2 separate regions of the Homo sapiens genome follow, and region 1 is linked to region 2. Evidence: fine-mapped expression QTL. Tissue or cell type: whole blood. Region 2 holds a variant in brackets; the other region holds the start of a gene. All regions are shown on one strand. Distances are between the middles of the regions. Region 1 holds the start of ME3 (malic enzyme 3). Region 2 overlaps ME3 (malic enzyme 3).

The links.
Region 1: it holds the start of ME3, and the variant in region 2 is fine-mapped to the expression of ME3 in whole blood (TOPMed, PIP 0.97).

What each region holds. Positions count from the first base shown.
Region 1 is chr11:86,668,070-86,676,406 of GRCh38, forward strand. It overlaps ME3 (malic enzyme 3), which reads right to left and starts at 4,547. Exons shown (of 15, transcript NM_001161586.3): 1 at 4,255-4,547; 2 at 3,693-3,889. The coding sequence starts at 3,875. RefSeq lists a silencer at 6,918-7,212.
Region 2 is chr11:86,631,602-86,639,938 of GRCh38, forward strand. The region is part of intron 2 of ME3 (malic enzyme 3); the gene reads right to left. Among named protein-coding and RNA genes, the nearest start is that of ME3, 37 kb to the right of the region's middle. The variant T/G (reference allele first, on the strand shown) is at 4,552.

The DNA of each region.
Region 1 (8,337 bases), 36 kb after region 2:
ATCTAGTATCAATTCTGTCACCATCAGGAATATGCCTAAATCAGTCTATGCAGTTGTGAATTGCCATCATTATTCAGTAGACTCAAATACAGCAGGCAGGCTGCCTCTGTCCACTTCTATGACCAATGATAATCTCTGTGGAGTTGCTTGGCTTCTTCCTTGGCTTCTCTTTTCTTTGGAAAATGAAAATGTTGGATGAGAACAATTATTTTCAAAAACTTTTTGTTACTACAATCCACAGTAAAAATAGTCATTTTACATGCTGACCTGATAAAATATCCATCTTTATTAACTTCAATGCATTTGCTATTTTTCTATTTCATTCTAATACATTTCTTTAAAAAAATTGCTGGTAGATCCACTAAGCTAATTTCATGTCTCATAGTTTGTAACTCATAGTCTGAACAATTCCAGACTAGATCATCTCTGAGGGGCCTTCCTACCCCAATTATGGAAATCATCCTCATTATCACCTAATATTTACCACATGGGGGCTGTCTCCTATGATCCTCAAAGCAGTAGTGTAACACGGGCAGAGGAGCTTATGAGATTCATCACAGATCACATGGCCAGAGCATGATGGAGCTGGTACCAGAACCCAGTGAATGCACAATAGCAGCAATGCTTGCCCTGGTCGGCACCTCTTCTCTCAGATAATTCCACCTCCTGACCACCCTCTGTCATACAGCTGCGACTTAAATGCCACTCCTAATCTGTCGAAATGAGCTGCAAATCTAGTGAACACATTCCAAGAATTTAATGTTAAGCTAGATCTTTCAGGCACTACCCCATGCCAAACACAGGTGGACGAATCTCATTACCTGGCCTGGAAGGGCTCTCCTTCTAACAGAAAAAAATCCACCCACAGACATGAACACTAAGCACAGCATTGAAGACTCTTTCAAAACTGCACTTCCATTTTGCTTCCTCAGTAATAACCTCATTGTTCTATTTAACCTCAGCACTATCTTCCCACCTGGCTGATGCAAAGTACCAAGGCTCAAGCCTTCCATGGAGACTCTCTGAGCACTGGAGGACAACAGAACAGCCAGAGGGTGGCACTCCAGTGGGAAGAGAAGGGCACTCACAGTAACTCCCAGGAAGCACTCCCTCTGTTGCTCCCCTTCTGTCCCCAAGGGTGAGTGAATAGGGGATGCCAACAGGCTGTCAGCCTCCTTCTAGATACCCTTCTTATCCCAGACAAGCATCAGCTGACTTCAGGAATATATAAAAGATGTTGTTTAACATCATGGAAAGGTCAGGTCCTTAGATTTATGGATAACACCTGTATTAGTCTGGTTCTTACACGGCTGTGAAGAAATACCCAAGACTGGGTAATTGATAAGGAAAAGAGGTTTGATTGACTCACAGTTCCACATGGCTGGAAAGGTCTCAAGAAACTTACAATCATGGCGAAGGCACCTCCTCAGAGGGTGGCAGGAGAGAGAATGAGCGCTAGCAGGGGAAATGTGTCAGGCACTTATAAAACCATCAGGTCTCGTGAGAACTCATTCATTATCACGAGAACAGCATGCAGGGGAACCACCCCCGTGATTCAATTACCTCCCACAGGGTTCCTTCCACAACACGTGGGGATTATGGGGATTATAATTCAAGATGAGATTTGTATGGGGACACAGCCAAACCATATCAACAACTTATTTATAGTACTTGGGAGAAAAAAATTTACATCAGAGGCAAACGACAGGGGCAAGAATGATTTCAGGGGACCAAAACCTAGGTTTTAAAAAAAGACTTAAAGATCTTCCTTCATTTTCTTAACTACTTAACAAAGCAATAAATGCTGGTTGGTAACATGCCAGTAATTCTAAGGCAATTATTTTCACAATGATTGGAGCCTGTAGTGGGAATTTATTGTTTTGCTTTCTACATCCATTCCTCCTCCTTCTGATGACACTATCCATATTTACTGTGAGGATCTATATTCCCTTTATTCCAAGCCAGATGGTGTGGGTGGCCCTACCTTAAACCCCATTTTAACTCCAGGGGTGGGCTCTGACCGGCTTTAATTACTGGTGATTGGTTTTGGTTTGGGAATGGGAAGAGAGAATCTAATCAGAGTCAATAAGGCAGAAGGATTCGCTTTCTGAGGCGTCAGAGAAAGGGTATTTTCTCTTCCCCAAGAGCTACCAGAATAAAAGTATCTTTCTATTCCTGGATGATGTGGTGTGAGAACAGGAGATGGAGGACTGTGGCAATAACGAAGTGAGAGACTTCACTGAATAGAGCTTGAGGATGAAACTGACCTTGCAGAGAGGCAGAGTAGAGAGCCAGAGAGAATCTGCATCTTGAGCAATGCCATCTGGGCTTGTGGTTCAAGCCGTGCCTGCAACCCTTCCTCTAGATTCTTTAGATAAAGGAGCCTTTGTGTGCTTAAGCCAGTTTGTATTTTCTAACGCTTACTAGCAAAGTAATTCAAGGTGATAACAAACACCTTGAACACTTTGGAAAGTGGTAGCGTCCAAACAATTTAAGGTTTCTTTTGGAAAGAGCAGGACTCCAATGTGATAGAGGTTGATTTTGATTTTTTTTTCCTTAGCCGCTTCTATTAGTTCTGTAGGAAACAGTCACAATACTTCACATTATATAGTTGTTCCTACTTCTCAAAAACATCTTTTCCATACAGACTGCCTCACCTGAATTTCACAATCCAGAGTCAGAGCAATTATGAAAAAAAAATTTATTTTGCAGTAATTGTTATTCAGCACTTTATACAGTTTAAAATATGATTTCAAGTTCAGTGATTCATTTTATTGTCACAATAACCAAATGAGATAGAAATGGTGGGTCTATCATAATATCTATTTTAGGCTGGAGAAAGTTGGGCCTCAGATAAGTTAAATGAGATATGTGAGTTAATTTGAGGAGGTAGGGGGAGACAGGACTAAATCTGTCCTTGCTTCTATTTCTCTCACCCAATCCTCTGAACCAAAGATACTAAACTCTATTCCCAAAAACAAATACAAAAGAGCTAGCGGTGGGTTGAACTCGACCAAAGCATTGGAGATCTGGATTCCAGTGGCAGAGCCAGAACTAACTAGCTGGTGACCTTGGGCAAGTTTCCTTTGTCTTGTTTTTTGTAAAAGAAGAGGTTTAAACTAGGATCTCTAATGCTCCTGCAAGCTCGAAAATTTCTATAAGTCTAGACTTTTCCATCCTTGCTCTCAAATTAATCTTTTTCTCAGAATAATAATCATAACCTTATTTATTCTCCCACTGGGTACCAGGCACTGTTCTAACGTACCCCCATTTTCTACCCGCATTTTCTCTTTAGATCTCACGACATTCCTAAGACAATTATATCTCTTTTACAGATAAGGAAACCTAGGCTCATGTAGGTTAAATGAACTGCCCAAGACCAATAAAATTAGTAAGCATCAAGGGGAGAGCTGACCGCAGGTCAGACTGACCGCGAGGATCTAAACCTGGTCTGTGTTGTTACTGCAGAAGAAATTAGGCTCCCTGCATTACTGGTCGCCTCTCTCCACGCATAAAAGGGAGAGGAGGGACAAGAAAGCCAAACCAAGTCACAACAAGCCCCTGCAAGGCAAAAACAGAAAAACCGCTGGAAGGGCGCCCGGGAGGATCCTTTCTGGGTCCAGGGGGCGGGGCGCAATTTTCCGGCAGCCACGGGATCGCAACGCGGGCCGTCCTGCCCTCTGGCCCATTACCTTGTTGAGATGAGGGTTCCTGGTGACATCGTATCCGCGCTTCTTCAGGGGCACAGGGCGCGCCGGGCCAGGCTTGGAGTGGCAGCCTTGGGCGGGCGCGGTGGGTGTCCAGCGCGGGAGGGCGCCGCAGGCCCGGCCCGGCCAGGGAGCCAGCCGCGTGCCTGTCCCCAGCGCGGCACCCATGGTCCTTGGCAGACCTGGCACGGGAGAGAAAGCAAGGTCAGGGCCTCCTTCCAGCCAGCCAGGACCCACGCGCGCTGCGGGGCACCGGGCCTGATCCGGGGACGCGCCCTCTGGGAGAGGGCAGGTGCTCCCAAAGGGTTAAATGTTCCAGCCCCCGCCACTCCTCGGCTGCCACCTGCTCGGCTCCGCGCGGGGCGCCAGGCCTAGCCAAGAGCCAGGCAAAGCGAAACCAAGCCCTGGAAGCAGATCCGGTGCGGGTGACAGCCGGCGCCACCCCTGCCCCCATCCCTGTGAAAAAGAGGCGACTGCGCGGCGAGGGGTCCCCGTACCCCTAATCCCGCGTGGTGGCTTGCCTCGGTCCTCTCCTTCCCTGGCCCACCTGCGCTGCTCGGGGAGCTGAGGTCTACGCGGTCCCGCTGCGGAGCAGGCGGGGTGAGGAGCTGCGGTCTGTGAGTCCTCTCCCGCCAATGGGTGGACCGCGCTGGCGGCCGCGAGCTCGCGGAGCTGGTGAGTTCCTCAAAGAGCGGTCCCACAACCTTTGTTCTCAGTGCCTGGCTTCCCCTGAGGACGCGCGTGGGGCGCCTCAGCACTGCGTGCACGTGGTTTTCCCCAGTGACAAGAAGCAGCTCAGAATGCCCGCCTGAGACTCTCCATCTTGGCAAGACTAAATGCACAGAGGGGGATTTGCGTTTGGGGGTCAGCATATCCTCGCACTCTCCCAACATTCGGGGAAGGGCGTGCCTTCAGGATTTGGAGTAGAAATCCTCAGGCATTCGGTGCTCAGTGTTGCCTTGTGCTGTCCAATATAATAGCCATTCGCCACGTGTGGCTATATAAACGTAAATAAATTAGTCTATATAGAATAAAATTTAACATCCAGTTCTGCAGTCACGCTAGCCACATTTCCAGTTCAAGAGCCACTTGTATGCAGATACAGAACATTTCTGTTTTTGCGGATACTTCTATTAAGCATCATTGACATAGGAGCCACAGTTACTAAGAGGACTTCTGAGGACCCCATGGAGTTTGCCATGGGTTATTGGGGCCAGACAGGGATCTTGGGGTCCATCTAGCCCCAAACTTAATTTTATACTTTCTCCACACAGTAGTCAGGAGATTCCTTTTAAAGCAAACACTTTGTTGTGTGTGGAATAAAATCCAAACTTTCAGGGCCTACAAGATTTCCCATAAACTGGCTCTTGCCAGCCTCTTCAGACTTATCCTACTCTACTCTTTCCTTCTCACTGATCTCTGGCCATACTTGATCCTTCCTGTGTCTTCACCCCACTTGGTTCCCTCCCACTGCAGGGCCTTTGCACTTGCTATTGCCTCTCCTTGGAAGGCTCATACTCCAGCCTTGCAAACCACTACTTCATTCCCACCTCTCAGTTCTCCACTAAGTTGTCAACTCGAAGGCCTTTCCTCTATCCCATTCAATGTCAGCCTGCACTAGGAACTATAGAGTGAAGGGGTTTTTCTCTTTAGAGAACTTAACACAGTCAGTAGCGCGCTTGTTTTTCTGATTGTTTACTGACTATCTCCTGTCTAGAATGTAAGCTTCATGAAGAGAGGCTCTTTGCCTGTGAACCTGTGTGTCCTCACTGCCTAGCTCACTGCCTGGTATGTAGTTGCACAATAAATAGTTGTTAGGTGAAGGGAAGTGGCAGCCACTTTCATAAGGATCGTGAACCCTTAGACTTACTGACAGACAGTTGGCACGGTCCTCTGCTGACACCCCTTCAAAGCTCCCGGTGCCAGCATTAGCCCCGTTGTAAGTACCAAGCAGACATCATGGCCCATAATGTGCTAAGGGGTGCTCCTGCCTGAGTTCAGGATTCCCTCATCCCTTCAGGAATAATCGTCTCCTCCTGCAGTCTCTCTCCTCCCTGTGTAATATCTAATTTTCAACTTGAATGATCTACGTAAAATAGTTATTTCCAAAACAGAATTACAATTACCTGGTAGGAAATAAGGATGGGGCAAAAATACAGCTTTCCAGGCCCCATCCATGAAGATTCTCATCCAGTAGGGTTTACATCCCTGAAGTCAGGTTTACTCTTGGACTGCATATTTACATAAGCTTATAAATGATCTTTTTTTCTGCCTTAAACCAGTTTGTGTCAGATGTGTGATTGTGTGCAACCAATAGTATTAACTAAATCCTTTCAACACTATTTTTATATTGGCACTTCTTCCCACCAGTCAACATCTTTGGGGGGCAGAGATCATGTGTGTTTCCATCTTTGGTATCTAGTGCATGCAAATATTTGGAAATTGATTGTTGAACCAGTTTGCCCTTGCTGAATACAATGACCTTTCCCTCCCCTGGAGGATATCTAATAGGTAACTTTAGTCATTTGAAACCAGGATGTAAACAACAAAGGTTTCCAAACAAGCGAACATAATTTTTATAGCATCAATTCACTAAAGCTTGTACAGTTTACATATAAAAGTCTCTTACATGTCCTCACCTGTGGCCTATATTCTCTTAACCCAGGCATAATTCTACAATGTTGTTTTGTGTGTGTGTTTGTTCTTTGGTGACAGGAAAGAAAAGGTTAAAGGCAGGTCCACCAGGAGCAGTGACAGAAGGCAGTAGCAAGAGGAGGTGGTGGCTTCTCAGTTCCATACAGTTGTCCAGGGACCCAGGTTTTCTCTTTTGCTGCCAGGCTCTTCTGTAGCTGTTGCCCGCCTCTACACAGCGCTAACACCATGTTAGCATCCCAGCCGTGGAAAGCGGGAACAAGGAAACAGAGGGAAAGCAAATCGATTTGTTTTTTTAATTGGGACAGGGTCTCACTGTGTTGTTTAGGCTGTTCTTGAACTCCTGGGCTCAAGCAATCCTCCTGCCTCGGCCTCCCAAAGTGCTGGGATTACAGGCGTGAACCTCTATGCCCAGCCAAAGCAAATCTGTTCTGTGGAAGTGACATGAAAGTTGTATATATTACTTCTACTCACATTCCATTGGTAAAAACTAAGTCACACATTCATATCAAGCTACAGGGAGGGCTGGAAAATATTGTTTGTAGTAGGAAAGGCATGTATGTGCTCTACTGAAGTTCAGTGGGGAGTCTATTACTAAAAGGAAGAAGGGGAGAATGGTTCCTAGGGACCACTAACTAGAAGTCTAAATATAATACTCATTTTCTGTTGAAGTGCTTAGCCCGTAGTGGGTGATCAGAAACTGTGAGCTGTTTTTATTGGCACGTGTGGTTTCCATTTCTGCTTTTGTGGCAACTTCCTTACTTTTAGAGCTGAATATAGGATTTCAGAGACCAGGTTCAGAACCATGGAAACATTACAGATCTTCTTCCAACTCCATACAACTCTGACTTCCTTAGCCAGCCAGGAAGTTGGCTTGTGATCTGGTGATCTGGTCCAGCACTATATAGAACTAATGGGTCTCCATAATTTGTCTTGGCCCCTCTCCTTTCATATCCCATTTACTGACTTCTGCCATCATTGTAATGATGCTTCTTGGGATGGCAGAGAAGGAATCTCATTCCATCTCCTCCAGCCAACAGTTCCATATTCCAGGTATAGTTAATACTTTTGCTTTTCCATTTTGATTACAGAGATTTAAATATCTACCTGTTTCCCTACTAGATTGTGAATTCCTTGATGACTACAACCACCATTTATAATTCTTTGCATCTCTATACCTGGGAAAGTGCCTGGCACTTAGAATTAACTCAGTTTCTTGAATTAAATATAATTGTGGTTCAAATTTGTGCATAACCTTCCAAGGAGTGGAATTAATTGAAACTAAATTTGGTACATTGTTAAAAGGGCACAAAATGGCTTCAAGTCAGATTTTTAACTCAGTCAGCTATCTTAAAACAAGATCTCTTATCTTCTGAAAGCAGATGTTAATGACCTTACACATGGATTTTAAAAAGGAGGTGAATATAAAATTCATTATTTTTCAGTTAATCCCATTGCTTCACAAACTTATTCGTAATATTCTGCACAACATTTAATGTTCATGATTGCCCCAAAGAACTCTTTAAATTCATATTGCTGCTAGTAATATTTGTAAGCACTTCAACTCTATCATTATTATTATTATTTGCAGCAAAGGAGAATTATGGGGATCATTTATTTCTTCCTGGTCTGCATACTCATCACTCTGCTTATGTGCCCTGAACTCTGGGCCTTTGCTCAGCAGTTTCCTCTGCTTCCAGCATCTGCCAGTTGAAGCCCTGTCTGTCCTTTACAATTCTACTCAAACACTACCTCCTCCAATGAGCCTTCCGAGAGTGCCAACCAGCAGCTTACCCTCCCTCCCTGATGCCCACAAACTCTGCTATTTTTATCTCTCCTATTCACTTTTATTGCACTTTTGAAAATCTCTCCTATTGTGCAAAGAGGCTCATAAAAGTGAACACCTTTAAATCCAGATAGTCTGGACTCTCTACCAGTGAGTGACTTTGAGCATTTTATGTGACCTCTTTAAGCCTCA
Region 2 (8,337 bases):
CAGGTAATTCTGATGCATCTGGAACCATGGGCATAATAAAGACAATTTGAGTGAAGCTTTAAAAATAACAGGCAATAATAATAACAGGCATGGCACATTGGAAGCCTACGGGCTGCCAGGCACTGTTCTGATAGTTATAAATTATTTTGAGATAGAGTTTTATTCTTGTCATCCAGGCTGGAGTGTAGTGGCACAATTTCAACTCACTGCAACCTCCGCCTCTCGGGTTCAAGCAATTCTCCTGCCTCAGCCTCCTGAATAGGAGGGATTACAGGCACCCACCATCATGACCGGCTAATTTTTGTATTTTTAGGAGAGAGAGGGTTTCATCATGTTGGCCAGGCTGGTCTCGAACTCCTGACCTCAGGTGATCCTCCTGCCTCAGCCTCCCAAAGGGCTGGGATTACAGGTGTGAGCCACCATGCCCAGCCAAATTATTTTATTTTACCTATATGAAGAAGACCACAGATGAAGAAACTGAGGCTTAAAGAGGCTAAGTACCTTGTCCATGGCCACATAGTTTCTGTGATTCCAACTCTGACCTGCCTGACTCCAACAGCATAGTGGTGTGGACTGGATACTTCCAAAAGTGATGTGTTCAAGGGCTGCTGGGTGCAAGAGAGTGCAGCCTGAGCAGAGGGCCTCTGGGAGAGCAGCTTCACAGGGGCCTCACAGTTTGTGGGGAAGTAGTGGGGAACTGCCTGATCCGAGAGCCTAAATAGGGGAGTGAAGAAGGGAGACAAAATGGCCAAGGGGGGTGGGGTAGAGCAGGCTCTGTAAGCCAGGTATCTTGGACTCGCTTCCCTGTGCCTGCTTCTGCCTGTTCCTCACACTACAGCCAAGAAGTTGTATTCTTTTACTTTAGCAGGGTTTCCTGAAAAGAACATGGACTTGGGAATTAGTCCTCAGGATTCTAGTCCTGACTGTATTGCTGAAGACCCTGCCTCCCTCAGACATTAGTCTCTATGTCTGCAAAATGAGGAATGGCCCTGGACATCATCCTCAGGCCCCTCCAGTACTGCATACACTGATTCTCTGGCCATATGTTGGAGAACCTGCCACATGTGTGACAGCCTGCGCTGTGAAGGAGGGGACAGAGGAGGCCACAGGGGCAGAACTGCACTCCAGAGACCTTGGGTGGGCCCAGGTGCAGTGAGTGATACTGAAGGCCAGTGGTTTCCTTCAGGGCAACCCAGGTGCTCTGCAGTCACACGAATCTCTCCTGGGCACTGGTCCTCCATGGGAGCCCCAGGCCCTGGGGCAGGGCTATATGGACAGGAAACACAACGGTGAGGAAGGGCTTTCAGAATCCACATCCTTCAGTCCTCATGCATGAGTCAGCCACCACAGCTGGATGGCAGCACTTAGTCACTCTCCGCCTGAGCACTGCACGGCCCCTGTGCCCAGGGACACAGAGTCAGGATGTTGAGGGTTCCCACAGAAAACTGCTGTGAGTCCGATATGCATGTCAGTAATGACCACTGAGTCACCATCCAGCATTGTGTGGCCAGGCTGAGGATTTGGTTGCTTATTCTCTGGTCACAGAAACTCATCTCTGTAAAGTCCAAGGCCACATTACAGTCTCCAAGCAGCTCATTGACCCACAAGAGAGATGTGACCAAGGACATAAGCACAGTGACAGACTGACATTTAGTCACTTACTATTTGCTAGGTACTTTCCTGGGCTTTGTGTGTTTTGATTTATTAACTCTCATACAGCCACATGAGGGGTGCTATTATTAACCCTATTTTGTAGATCAGGAAACTGAGCACAACATGCTTACATAATTGGTCCAAGGTGCCACAGTCTGGGGAGGCAAAGTCAGAATCTGAACCCAGGTAATGCTGGTTCTAGAGCCCGTGCTGTTAAATGCCACATTCCACTGAGCACATTAAAATAGCTGGAAAGTAAGGGCATGGAGGAGAAATGTAATAAGAGAAATGAAAAGGTGCTAGACAGGACGCTTAGGGACATTGAGACTTGATTGGTATGAGAAGGGTGGTTGTGAGGGAGAGGAAGGTACTCTCATGGGTGTCTTGGCTGCAAATCCAGGTTGCTCTCAAACCCAAATGCATGCTGTTCTATAGGCCAGAGGGCAACAGAGGACCGTGCTAGAGGGGCCCGGAAGAGGAGAGGAGTCTGTCCATCAGATGCAATCATGAAGGACTTCACAGACAGAAGCATCTACCATGGGCCTCATGGGGTCATTTGGGGAGGTTACATGTCCACCATCTAGAGGGGAAACCTGGGCTCAACGCAGTTAAATGACAGGCCCACCATCAGTGGCAGAGCTGAGATGAGAGTAGGGCCACTGGCTCACAGCCCCATGCTGATTCTGCCATGACGGTGCCTTTGGAGTCCAGATAGGAGGAAAGAAAAGGAACCAGAATTTCCTTCCTGCACTTATTCTCCCTTAACCTTGATATGTTCCATTAATTGAGTCCCCAAATCCCTCCCAAAATACACCCCTCTCCTTCCATTCCTACAAACAGCCATTTTGGGCATGAGGAAGGGAAGGAGGAAGAAAAAAAGGAGAAGGAAGAGTAGAGGGAGGAGAGATTGGGAAACCTGAGAGGGGTGTTCAGGGATGCCTCCATCTGGTCAGTCAGAAGTGGGGGCCCTGATTTAAATCCCCCTCCCAAATGAACTGGGTTGTATGGAGCCAGAGCTTGGGTTCATGTCTCTACATGGGTACCACAGTCATCCCCACCAGGACTGTCTTCTCCTTAGACTGCTATGATGTTCCCAACCTCCCTCCTGACATCCTGGTTGTGAGTAGCATGTCAGCTAATGGTCAGCATGCCCGTGGGACAGCTTTTTAAACTCTAGACTTCCCAGTTTTCTTAGCTCATAATCAGATCATGAGACTGTCTTTCTTACTGTCGCTCAGCTTACCTGTGTCTCAGCAAAGTCGTGGACTTTGGTTTGAAATAAATTATCATGCTGCCAAAAGAAAATTATCCAAAAAACAAAGAATGACTGGTAGCATTTTAGTCCCATACCTGGGGTATTGTCTACTATGCATGAAGGCTCAAGTTAGAGACAGGATCACATTCACATGCTAGTAAATGGTTCTGGGTCTTTTGTGTTTTTTTTTGTTTGTTTTGTGTTTCATTCTGAAAATAAAACATCATAGATAGCAGCTGGTTTGTCCATTGTCTTCTTTCTTGGAAATCTTATGGAAGGTTCCTTTGAACACTATCCTTGGCTTCTCTGTTAGGACAAACTGAAACTGTGATTGATAACAAACCATAGAAGTTAATTTAAACAGGATTATCCATTTTAATTGACTTGTAATCGTGAGAATAACAACAACAACAACAAAAAACCCAGAACCTCTAAATGGTAATTCTTGAGGGGTGAAATTGTATCTTTGCTCCGTTCTGGATGTTACCAGGCACCGTTAAAAAATTAGGAACAGGCTAGACACGCTGGTTCACACCTGTAATCCCAGAACTTTGGGAGGCCAAGGCAGATGGACCGTTTGAGCCCAGGAGTTCCAGACCAGCCTGGGCAACATGATGAAATCCCTACAAAAATTAGCCAGGCGTGGTAGTGCACACCTGTAGTCACAGCTACTCAGGAGGCTGAAGTGGGAGGATCACTTGAGCCTTGGCCCTGTAAGAAGAGGATTGGGTGATTGGCTCTATAAGAACAGGGAGGGACATCAAAGCTTTCTCTCTCCACCTGCATACACTGAGGAAGGGCCACGTGAGGACGCCGTGAGAATGTGGCTGTCTGCAAGCCAGGGAGAGGGCCCTCACCAGAAACCATGATGGTACCCCAATCCTAGACTTCCAGCCTCCAGAACTGTGAGAATAAGCCACACAGTCTATGGTATTTTGTTATGATAGCCTGCTGTGGTTTGAATGTGTCCTCCAAATTTCATGTATTGGAAACTAACTTACTCTCCATTGTAATGGTATTAAGAGGTGGGACCATTAAGAGATGATGAGAGCCCTCAAGAATAGATTAAAGCCATTATCTTGGGTGTGGGTTAGTTATCTCAGGAGTAGGTTTCTAAAAAAAGGATGAGTTCTACTTTATTTCCTGTCTCTGTCTTGCAGGCTTGCTGTTGCCAGATTCCAGAACCATGTTCTTGGACTTCCCAGCTCCAGAGCTGTGAGGAAATAACTTTTTTTCCTTTCTAAATTACCTGGTCTGTGATATTCTGTTACAGCAGCAACAAATGGACTAACACAGCCTATGTCATTTCCCAGAACAACTCAGTGATGTTGATACTCATCTTGCAGACAAGGAAACAGACTTAGGGAAGTTGAGAGATAAGCACAGTCTGGTCAAATGGCAGAGCCAGAACTGGACTCCTGGTCTTTTGGCTTGATAATTTCTTTCCCTAGTTCTTCTGGGGCTGCTTTGTTTAACCTAGTCCCCGTATCCTGGGAAGCTTTGGGCTAAAGCTCACACATTTTCAGGTAGAGATGGTAGAGATCATTTACCAGCCTACAAGGGTCCTAGAAAGAAACCTGGGTGCTATGGAAGCCTGAAGCTTCTGAGGGGTTGTAGGAATTGGAGGCAATTCAGTGTAGTGG[T/G]AAATGTGTTGGGGGCAGGGCGGGGTATGTCTGGTTTGAGACTTTCTGGGTTAAATCCTCTGTGAGAGCTTAGGGATGCCTATTACATTCTCTGAACCCAGTTTTTCTTTCTTTTTTTTTTTGTTTGTTTGTTTTAATCTATATGAGACTAACTAAGGTATTTGCCCCTTGGAGCTTTTATAGTCTTTAAAATGAGATAATGTCTGTGAAATGCTTTTAGGACACTGCCTGGCATAAACACTCATGAAGAGAGGGAGTGAGGTCATGGCCAGGACTGAAGAGTAGTGGCTGAGCACTGCCCAACCACTGCAACCAACACTGGTTCAGGAGAAGCATCCCTTGGTGCACCTCCAGAGTGACAACATTCCCTATGCCCAGACACACATGACAGCCTGCAGGGCATGCATAGCCCTCATTCCTGACTTACTCCTCTAACAACCTGGTGATGTTTCAGATGGAGAAAGTGAGATCTGGAGAGGACAAAGCAGTCCAGTAGAACATGCACAAGTTTTGGAATCGGAGCTGCATTTGTACTCTGGCTTTTCTATTTGCTGTGTGTGATCTTGAACAAGTTACTTAACTTCTCAAATCCTCAGTTTCTTCATCCTGAAAATACAGAGTTGATAAATGATTATCTAAAAGGGTGTTATGGGAATTAAATGAGCAAGATACATGAAGGTGTTCCTAAGAAGGTTAGTTTCTGTTTCTCCTTAAGTGCTTTGCTTATAGTTACACAGCAGCTGGTAAGTAGCAGAGTAGGGTCTAAAAGCTAAGCTTTAGGATGCTGTGAGGCCAGAGGAGTAGAATTACAGAGAAAGTGAGAAGCCAAAGATCTGGACAAGTGCGTTAAGAATCTGTTTGCCTGCCATCATTCTTGAATCAATGTAAAAAGTAAAAGAAGCAAAAAATGGCGAAAAAAATGAGCAAATCAGTAATGGTGCCTGTATCCAGAATCCCCAATTGGTTTCAAGACTAACAGTGTGTGGGTCTTATACGTAACTAATATCTATACACGTACATTCAGGGAGTCTCCATTAACTCATTCAGTTAACAAATACTATGAAGCATCTGCCATGTGTGTGAAGCACCAAGCCAGGCTCTTAGGGTTACAAAAACTGACAGAACAATCACGGTCCTTGGGAGATCCTATTATAGTACTGAAGGTAATACGTAAACAACAACAACAACAAGAAGCACAAAAAAAAAAAAAAAAGCAAAACTCATTACAGCAGTGTGATAAGTGCCATGGCAGTGGAATAAACACCCAGACACAATGAGAAAGCCCATATTTGGTCTAGAGCTGTCAGGGAAGATTTCCATGGGAAGTGATGTTAGAGCCAGCAGGGCTAAGAGAAGCAAGGGAGTAGGCAGCACAAAGATGTGGAACAAGAGAGCCTGGTGTGCACTTAGGAGCAGTGAGTCTTGTGTAGCACGCACAGCACAGACTAGGGAGTAGGGATGATGAGGCTCGATTGAGACACCCCTCGAGAAGGGCCTTGTGCGTTGTGCTAAGGAGTTTAACTTTGTGCTGTAGGTGGGAGGAAGCACAGGAAACTTTTTAAGAAGGGGAGTTCATGTATTACCAATTTCATCTGGTAGAGGTTGATGAAGAAGTTGAACTGGGAGTAGGAGAAATTGGAGATAAGGAAAATGGAGATACGGAGACCATAGAAATGTCCAGATGACATCCTGAACTCTGCACACACAGAAAAATAGTCACTGATGATTACAGGGCACAGGCTTGATATGTAGAAATAATGTATCTATGAATTTGTGCAAATATATGAATATATATGTGCAGACATGCTCATGCATACACACACACACACACACACACACACACACACACACACATAAGGAAGCAGGTTCTGTCTTTACTATGGCACCTGGGTATGAAACTCACATGGCTCCCAGCTTCCCACAGGAGCCCCCCAGGCCTGGCTGTGCCTCCCCACATGCTGTCTTAGAAATGGTGTACCTCTGACTTTTCTGTTGTGGTAAACCCAAGTGGCTTTTCATTTCCAGGCTAACCTCAAAGCTAGAGTTTGAGGTGATTAAATACTGCCTGTGAGGTTGTGGTACTGGAAACTTCCTCCTAAATGATGTAAGTACAGGGAGTGCAGCATGCCTGGGTACACACACAGCACATCCAGGGCTGTGCAGTGCAAGAGCAGCACAGCTGCATTCATTTCTGTAATCAGACCTTTAAATTAACATAGCAATTACAGCCACAGGAAAAGGAAATCAGCATTTACTATTGATTTTTCATATACAAATGCAAAAAAAAATCACAACCACAGCACACAAATAAATAAGTAGAACTTAATGTGTCTTTGTTAAAATAAAAGCTTTTGCTCAAAAAAGGACGAAAACTCATGTGAAGTGTAGGCTAAGGGTGGATGACACATTATCTTTCAAGTTTTTAGAACTCTTACTAATATGATATCATTGCTAGTAAAGGGTAAGGGAGCTTAAACTAGCATTTACTGGGGGCCTACAATGTGTCAGATATTGTGTTAAACAAGCACTTTAAATAGCTATAATATCTCTTTTAATCCTCAAAACAACCTTAGGAGGTTAGAACTGTTATCCTCTTTCTACAGATAGCAAACTTCAGGAAAGATAGATCAAGTAACCTTCCCAAGATCACACTGCTAGTAAGTGGCAGGGTCAGGATGTAAATCCATGTCCCTTGAATTCCTAAGCCTGAGCTCCTTCCACTTTACTCCCCCGACTTGCCTCCTCATCAAAATGTGAACCACTGTACTTCCAAACCTGTCTGGAAAGCCCCACCAGAAATCACTGTCATCATGCCCATTCTATCTCTAGAGAATGTTAGATTGGAAGGAGCCTTGGGTTATCAACTACAATACCCCAAAAATAGAAGTTTGCAGGTAACACAGCAGAGCCTCTCACTCTATATTAATGTCTTCTCTCTCCGTGGCAAATGTTCTTATTACTACATCTGTCTGAGATCTCCTGTCTTAGGAATTAATGGTTCCCCACAAAAGTTTGCTGTTATTATTGTTGTTTTAATCACAAGATTTATATTCTTGCCTGTCTGAAAAGGAGCTGGAGGAGTAATGCCTTTTCCTTTAGCAGATTTATTCAATGGAAATGCATGAGCTGAGTCTCCCTAATGTACATAATGTGTTTCCACAAGATCCTATAAAAGAATGAATAAGAAGTGAGTCAATCACAGCAAAATGGTTGTATTTACAATTAGTGCTCAGTTTCTTGAAACACAAACCTCCTACCCAAATATTCATCCAAAGGATAAACATCTCCCCCACACATTGCCATAACCAGTTCCTCCTGGCACAAAAACATACATCTAAGCATCCGTATCCAGGATATAAAATGATGCCTTCCAAAGCAAGGGTTCAGAGGATACCCTTGTGTGGTGGTGCCTCTCCTAGAATCCTGGATCTGAGCTTTCTATTGGGTCTGGATTCAAAGCTAATTCTCTCTCAGATGAGAAAATCACTCATAAACTCAGTTGTGTTGATCTTGATGATATCTGGAGCAGACATGCCTCCTATTTTCTACAAACTGAGATGCTAAATGGAGTAAAAATGAAGCCCCACATTAAAGCAGAAAACTTCAAGGTAAAAGAAACCTGAATATCCTTTCAAATTAGGCTATAAACATAGTTTTGCTTTCAGGGTTACGTGGTTGAAAGTCTCTAAGAAGGGCAGATAATTGGGACACAGTCTTCCAACTACGTTTCGCATGAGTGGGTGATTGGGGGCAGGATGTATGAGACAATTGAGTGAGCAGAGCTGA